Linked DNA regions of Homo sapiens. The protein of the gene in region 1 purifies or fractionates together with the protein of each later gene. This does not show direct contact. Each region holds a gene or a part of one and is shown in the gene's direction. Other genes may lie near its edges. The genes, in order: STAU2 and ADAR.

Region 1 (3,820 bases):
ATACCTAAAGCACCATGGGAATATTGAATTATAGAGTTGGACAGGATAGTCTTATTTATTGTTGCATAGCACATTGCACCAGAATTTAAGGACTTAAGACAACAAACATTATCTTACAGTTTCTGTGGGTTAGAAATCTGGGTGCAGCTTAGCTGGGTGCCTGTGGCTCATAAAAGAGGTGGTAGTCAAGCTGTCAGTTGGGGTTGCAGTCACATCTGGAAGCTCTACTGGTGGAAGATCTGTTTCTGAACTCATTCATGTGGCTCTTGCAGGGTTCAGTTTCCTGGGGCTCTTGGACTGAAGAAATCAATTGTTGCTGGCTGTTGGCCAGAGGCTTTTCTCAGTTCTTTGCCATATGGGCCTCTCCAAAGGGCACCACAGTTTGGCATCTGCCTCCCTCTGAGCAAATGAGTGAGAGAAGGTGACACCTAAGAATTTTTATAACCTAATCTTGGAAGTGGTATCTCATTATTTCTGCTATATTCTATTTGTTAGAGGCTGCCTACCACAAGGACTTTAGCTTACTTTTTAAAGATTGAAGAAAAAAAAGAAGACAGAAAAAGAAGAACTCAAAGATACACAAAGTAATTTGAACCAAGGCTCAGAAGGTAATCTGAAGAACTTTGACTAAAACTCAAATTCACCAATATCCAGGCCGTGTGCTCTTTATACAGCATCCCGTTCTCATAGGAAATGTGACAGTAATTAGAAAATAAATAAAAATTGATGCAGATGCTGAGGACACTATTGTAAGAAAAATATTAAAGTTTTCAAAGTCATTTTGAATGGACTCTAGTTTGTCATCTTGAAAAAATGGTAGCCAAATATGGGTGTGTGTTTGTGTATGTATGTGTGTACTTACAAAACGTTTGCTTCCAGGGGAAAGTTCAATATTAAAATTTAGCAGCATAACAGTTTCTATACAGGTGATTAGATATAGGCCTTTTGCTGTGTATCACAATTGTGTTGTTGCTTTAGATAATTTTTAGGGGAGAGGTCTGTATATAATTTATATTTTATATAAACTTTTTTTCATTACAAGATCCCATGATTTATTTATTTGTAATTTGGACTTTCCTGCCCTTCATTGGCATCTGTTTTCAAATTAAAATTTTTTTTTTTTTTTTTTTTGAGATGGAGTCTCGCTCTGTCGCCTAGGCTGGAGTGCAATGGCGCAATCTCGGCTCACTGCAACCTCTGCCTCCTGGGTTCAAGCAATTCTCCTGCCTCAGCCTCCTGAGTAGCTGAGATTACAGGCACGCGCCACCATGCCTGGCTAATTTTTGTATTTTTGGTAGAGGCAGGGTTTTCACCATGTTGGCCAGGCTGGTCCCGAACTCCTGAACTCAAATGATCCACCCACCTTGGCCTCCCAAAATGCTGGGATTACCACGCCCAGCCTGAAATTTTAATATACATACTATTTTTATACTGATGATAACAGACAAAATGACAGAGAAAAAGAAACTATTCAGCAAGATAATTGTACTATATGCTCTTTTCCATACCATCTAAGAGAATACTTGTGGTGTTGCATCTTCTTTAGGATTAATTTATCGTATAGAAGATGGGAACAAAGCTGTTTAAAACAGGACTGCAAAAAGGGAAGTATACATTAAATATTAACCTGAAACTCTCAGATTTATTTTTAACAGCTTCACTTTTGTTGGGATTGTCTTAGAAGTCTAGAAGCAGAAGGAGCTTTGTTCAGATCTGTACTGTCCAGTATGGTGGCTACTAGTGACGTAGTTATTCAAGTGAACATGAAAGAAAATTAAATATTATTTTCTTGATTGCTCTAGCCACATTTCAAGTGCTCAGTAGCCACATGTGGCTAATGACTTCCAGATTGGACAGTGCAAGTACAGAACATTTTTATCATCATAGAAAGTTCTATGGAGATCTGGATAAATTACATTTTATATTTGATTTTGATCAAGGGCATGTGTTTAAAATACCAGTCATTGAGGTTATCAGCTAAGTTGAACTTTATTTCTTCATTTTCGTTTTCCAGTTTTTGGAGCCGTGAGGGATACAGCAGTTTGGTCAATATTGTCTTAACATGCTTCAAATAAATCAGGTGAGTTTGTGTTAAGGCATTTTTCATGCTTACATGGTGCTTTGGCTGTAAATTGTGGAACATTTTAACTCAGCTTTTCTTTTCTATAACTGTAACCTGACTCATCACTTTTTAAAGCAGTTACCTACTGTATAGTCATCATTGGAGGCTGTGTAGGGCAGGTTGTTTAAGGATTAGAATGATCTTCTGAAAGTTGATAACTTCTGGTTGTGCAAGGCAGAAGGTTTGTCTGTTCTTCTTGATGTCACATCCCTTTAGGACTTGTTAATGTGTTCAGAATGCTTATGATCATGATACAGCTTCAGTAGGTGGCAGTTCTGCAGACTCAAAGCATTTTTAGTGACAAATCTTGTGAAGTAGTTGTATCTGTTTTTTTTTTTTTTTTAAAGTTCACTTTCCAGGGCACTGAAAAACACTAGAAGGAAGTGCCCTGATAAACTACAGCATTTAATACTTTAGACTCACTGAAAGAAGTGCTTTTCTTAGTTCTTGACGTTTCTCCAAGAACTTTATACATTTAATTTTACCTTTCCCGATCAAATAGAACATTGTATCATAACTATAGTGTTAGAAAATACTTTTGGCCAGGCTGGGTGGCTCAAACCTGTAGTCCCAGCACTTTCTGAGGTGAGGTGGGAGGATCTCTTGAGCCCAGGAGTTTGAGCCAGACTGGGTAACGTAGTAAGACCCTGTCTCTTAAAAACAAAAAAAAAAAAAAGGAAAGAAACAAAATACTTTTATTTCTTTTGATTGCAAATCAACAGAGAAGTAATTAAACTTTTTTTCTTTTCCCCTGTGATTAAGAAAGTAATCGACTGGGCACGGTGGCTCACACCTGTAATCCCAGCACTTTGGGAGGCCAAGGCGGGCAGATCACCTGAGGTCGGGAGTCCGAGACCAGCCTGGCCAACATGGGGAAACCCCGTCTCTACTAAAAAATACAAAATTAGCCAGGCATGGTGGTGCGTGCCTGTAATCCCAGCTACTCGGGAGGCTGAGGCAGGAGAATCACTTGAACCCGGGAGGCGGAGGTTGCGGTGAGCCAAGATCGTGCCATTGCACTCCACCCTGGGCAAAAAGAGTGAGACTGTCTCAAAAAAAAAACAAAAGTAATCTTGGCCAGGCGTGGTCGCTCACGCCTGTAATCCCAGCACTTTGGGAGACGAAGGCAGGTAGATCACCTGAGATCAGGAGATCAAGACCAGCATGGCCAACATGGTGAAACCCCATCTTTACTAAAAATACAAAAAAATCAGCCAGTCATGGTGGTGCACACCTGTAGTCCCAGCTACTTGGGAGGCTGAGGCAGAAGAGTTGCTTGAACCCAGCAGACGGAGGTTGCAGTGAGCTGAGATCACACCACTGCACTCCAGCCTGGGCTACAGAGCGAGATGCGTTCCAAAAAAAGAAAGTAATCTTGACCCCCTGCCTTCCGACATATAGTCCTGCTCACCTTGCCAAAGAAATTTCCAGTTCCTGTGCATCCCATGCCATCTCTAAGCTAATGACTTCTAAGTTTATACCTGGTCTAGACCTTTTTTTTCTGAGCTCCAAACTCATGTAGCATTTACCACCTTGATCTCTTGGATGTCTTTATACATCTTAGACTTAATGTGTGCCCTAGAAATAATCTCAGTGCTTCAGTTTTACTGGACCGTTTCAGTTCCTAGATTGGGTAAGGTTGTTCTGGCTACAGGGATTTGCACAGATTTCCTCTGCTGGACCTCTCTTCCCCACCCC
Region 2 (3,820 bases), on another chromosome or scaffold:
GCTGCAAGATGGTGGATCCCTGCACTTACCCTCCAGAAAGTATGCTTTCTATAGAGGCTTTTTTGGTTAAACATGCAGCTGGTCACACATTATACTTTCTTGTGAAACTTATGAGCACTAGCTGGTGGGGAGGCTTGGTAGACATCTTTGTGTGGAATTATTTATGCTACCCAACACTTTGGGATGCGGGAGTCAGATATTGGTGGTCATAGTGGTTTTGCATCAAGATGGCATCACTCTTGCCATGCAACCGGCATGTTTTCTTAATCTCTAAGGTCTATCACAAAGTGGAAAAGCAAGGTGTAAAGTGAGGGGAGAGGTGAAGATTGTCTGTATATGTCTAGAATATTTTCTTGAAGGATCGAAAAAACTGGCAACTGTGTTTGCTTCTGGGGAAGGAGGGACACTTTTATTGTACACTCTTAACTGTTTGAATTTTCACATGTTTGGCATCCAACTTGTCCATTTTAAAGTCATTAAGGAAAAAAGCTTATAAAAATGCTATCTTGTTACTTTAAATTTGTCTCTCCTTAATAGAAGTAATGTCAGCCGGGCGCAGTGGCTTACGCCTATAATCCCAGCACTTTGGGAGGCCGAGGTGGGTGGATCATTTGAGCTCAGTAATTTGAGACCAGCCTGGCCAACATGGTAAAACCCCATCTCTACTAAAAATACAAAAAATAGCTGAGCATGGTGGTATGCCCCTGTATGCCAGCTACTCCGGAGGCTGAGCAGGAGAATTACTTGAACCCAGGAGGCGGAAGTTGCAGTGACCTGAGATTGTGCCACTGCACTCCAGCCTGGGTGATGGAGTGAGACTCCGTCTCAAAAAAAAAAACAAAAAAATCAGAAGTAATGGCATTTCATTTATTCATATTTATGTGTTATTTGCATTTCCTTTTCTGTGAACCACCTGTTCTTGTCCTTTTCCAGTTTTCTTTCAGATTGTTACTCTCATGGATATGTAAGAACTTTTAACATAATTTTTAAAAGTAGCCCTTTGCCCAACATGACCCAATTTAGAACACACATCTGCCCACTGTTTAAGCCATCTGGAAAAGGAGAGGCCCAGTCTCCCTCCAGCTGCTCTTCTACTAATTCATATCCTTCATCTCAATAAGCACCTCCTTATCTTTAAGCACAGTCCTTCAGATGATAGGTTCAGTGCATTTCCTCTTTCTCTTCTGTGAAATCTTCTGTGAAATCCTTTCTAGGACTTCAAGTCAGCCATTCATTGAGAATGTAAGAACTTACTATGAACTAGATGGAAGATACAAAAAATTGCTGCCCCTGAGTGTGTAGCAGACATATAGCCATAGCAGTATTGAAATGTGCCATTGGAGGTGAATGCAGAGTGCTGTGGGGACACAGAGGACACTGCTGCCACTGTCTGCCAGGGAGCTGAGGAAGGTTGCATAGAGAGGGGAAATGCTAATTGAGTAACTACGTTTATTAACTATCTCGTACAATAATATACTTTAGTTGCTTCTTAATGTGAATTATGCTGGGTCTTTTTTTCCTTTCTGTCTACTGTGGCTGGTGACGTTAACTAATTTTATGACTTCTTTTCTGTTTTTTTTTTTTTTTTTTTTTGGAGATGGAGTCTCACTCTGTCACCCAGGCTGGAGTGCAGTGGCGCAGTCTCAGCTCACTGCAACCTCCGCCTCCTGGGTTCAAACAATTCTCTTGCCTCAGCTCCTCGAGTAGCTGGGATTACAGGCATCTGCCACCACATCTGACTATTTTTGTATTTTTAGTAGAGACAGAGTTTCACCATGTTGGCCAGGCTGGTCTTCAACTCCTGACCTCAGATGATCCACCCGCCTCAGCCTCCCAAAGTGCTGGGATTACAGGCATGAACCACCGCGACAGCCATGACCTTTAATATCTAAATGCTGGAGACCACTCAGAGCTCCCGATTCCTCCATCTAGTTGCTTACTTGTCACCTCTGTTTGGATTAACATCCCTAATATGACATGTCCAAAGCAGAACTCTTGGGTTTTGCCCCCTTCGCTTCATTTCCCCCAAGTCTTTCCCAGCTTAGTAAGTGATACCACTGTCTACCCAGTGGCTCAAGTCAGAAACCTGAGGATCATCTTTTCCTCTATCTCCTTTACCTCCTTCGTCAACTCATCCTTAAGTCCTATTGGTTATACTTAGAATTTCTATCCCAAATCCCTTCCTCTTCTTTCCACCTCCAGCGTCAGCACTCTAATCCAAGCCACTGTCTCATCTAGACTGTCACAATAGCCTCCTAACTGATCTTTATACTTTATTTACTCAACACTTATTTATGGAGTATCTTCTATTTTTTTTAGAACAGGAACCAAACATTAACCAATAGTCACCTAAAGAAATGTAAGATCTCATATTTGATAAGTATTCCAAAGGGCTGGAGTTGCAGCGAGAATCAATTATAGCACAGTTTGACTTAGGAAGGAGAGGGGGAAGGGCTTCCCCAAGAAGTACTGCCTGAGCTGAGACTTTAAGGATGATGAAGAGAGAAAGACTGAGGGTTCTAGGCGAAGGACACTGTTAAATCCTGTGGTGGGAGAAGCGCAGAGCTGGCAAAGAGGCTGAGAGGAGGCACTTATGGCAATAGCCCCATTTGGCTAGTGGCTACCATATTGGATAGCACAGCTCTAAAGGATTCTAGTTGCATAATTAACAAACTTTATCATATATGTAAATATATCAGTATAAAACTTTGCACGTAAGAGTTCATATTCTTTTCAAACACATGGGGCAGTCATGAAATTCTCCTGGATCCCTGAGGTAAAGATACTACACAATCTGTCCCTCCTGACCGCCTTCACCATCTTCTTTTCATGCCACTGTCCCTCTCATTCTGAACTTAAGCCCACTGGCCTGCACGGGCCTGCCAGCATGGACAAAGAAAAGAGTGAAGGCATTTAGTTGCTTCGGATCATCAAGGAACAGTGAGAAACTCCATGTGGTTGAACATAAACGTTGATTCCTTTTACTGCCTGAGCTGCTAAGTCTTGAAACTGAAGCCTCTGTTATATGCAGTTAGAGTATCCAAAGCTGGGTTCTCAGCCAGTAGATTAGGATCTGGTTGAAAGCTAGGATTCTTGATGCCTTGTCTGGTACATTTCCAAGCTGTTTTGCTCCACCATGCTCTTCCCTCTGTGTTTGGAAATTACCAGCCGGAGCGGTAGAAGCCACCTCCCTGCTCCACTTGGGCACTTTATTGTCAGCGCAGCTCATGCGCCCAAGATCCATTCCTTACCCCAGAGTTAGCTTAAGCCTGCCAGGAGTCAAAAAAACAACTCCCAGCAAAACCTGGGTCCCTGGCCTAAGGCCGACCTTGACCTAATGACCTCTCCAGGTCAAGTCCCCTTGAGCTAATAGGAAGTAAATGAGGGAATGGAGTTGGGCGCTTTAAAAATCAGACAGTGTATGAAGTAACAGTGACTTGTGGGGAGAAAGGTAGTCCCTTCTGATTTCTGCTTAAGAAGAGAGTCCAAGTTGGTGCTAGCATTTCGTTAAGCCTTCCTCATACTTCATAATCTTCCTTTATAGTAAGGACAGGCTCAGAGCCTTTGCAGGTAACAGTATCTAGTCAGAATTTTATAACATGATTTTATCATATTCTGTTTTACAGCCACCTTCAATATGTGGCAAGTGATACTGGTTTTCCATTTACAGTAGTGAAACAAAGTTTCCTATTTCAGTGTGTTTACATTTTTATCTCTTTTTTCATACCTAGTATTACGGATATTTACATTTTTAGAGTCTGTTTGTTTATTTTAGAGATGGGGATCTTGCTGTCTCGCGCAGGCTGGAGTGCAGTGATAT

What was found.
Region 2: the proteins of STAU2 (region 1) and ADAR purify together in Homo sapiens (affinity purification with mass spectrometry, with the first as the bait; one large-scale study listed by BioGRID). This does not show direct contact.

Annotation. Positions count from the first base shown.
Region 1 is NC_000008.11:73,736,544-73,740,363, reverse strand, and holds part of STAU2 (double-stranded RNA-binding protein Staufen homolog 2), read left to right. Parts: intron 1-495; 5' UTR 496-608; intron 609-2,014; 5' UTR 2,015-2,062; coding exon of another isoform or gene 2,063-2,080; intron 2,081-3,820. UniProt on the Homo sapiens protein: RNA-binding protein required for the microtubule-dependent transport of neuronal RNA from the cell body to the dendrite.
Region 2 is NC_000001.11:154,590,909-154,594,728, reverse strand, and holds part of ADAR (double-stranded RNA-specific adenosine deaminase), read left to right. Parts: intron 1-3,820. UniProt on the Homo sapiens protein: Catalyzes the hydrolytic deamination of adenosine to inosine in double-stranded RNA (dsRNA) referred to as A-to-I RNA editing.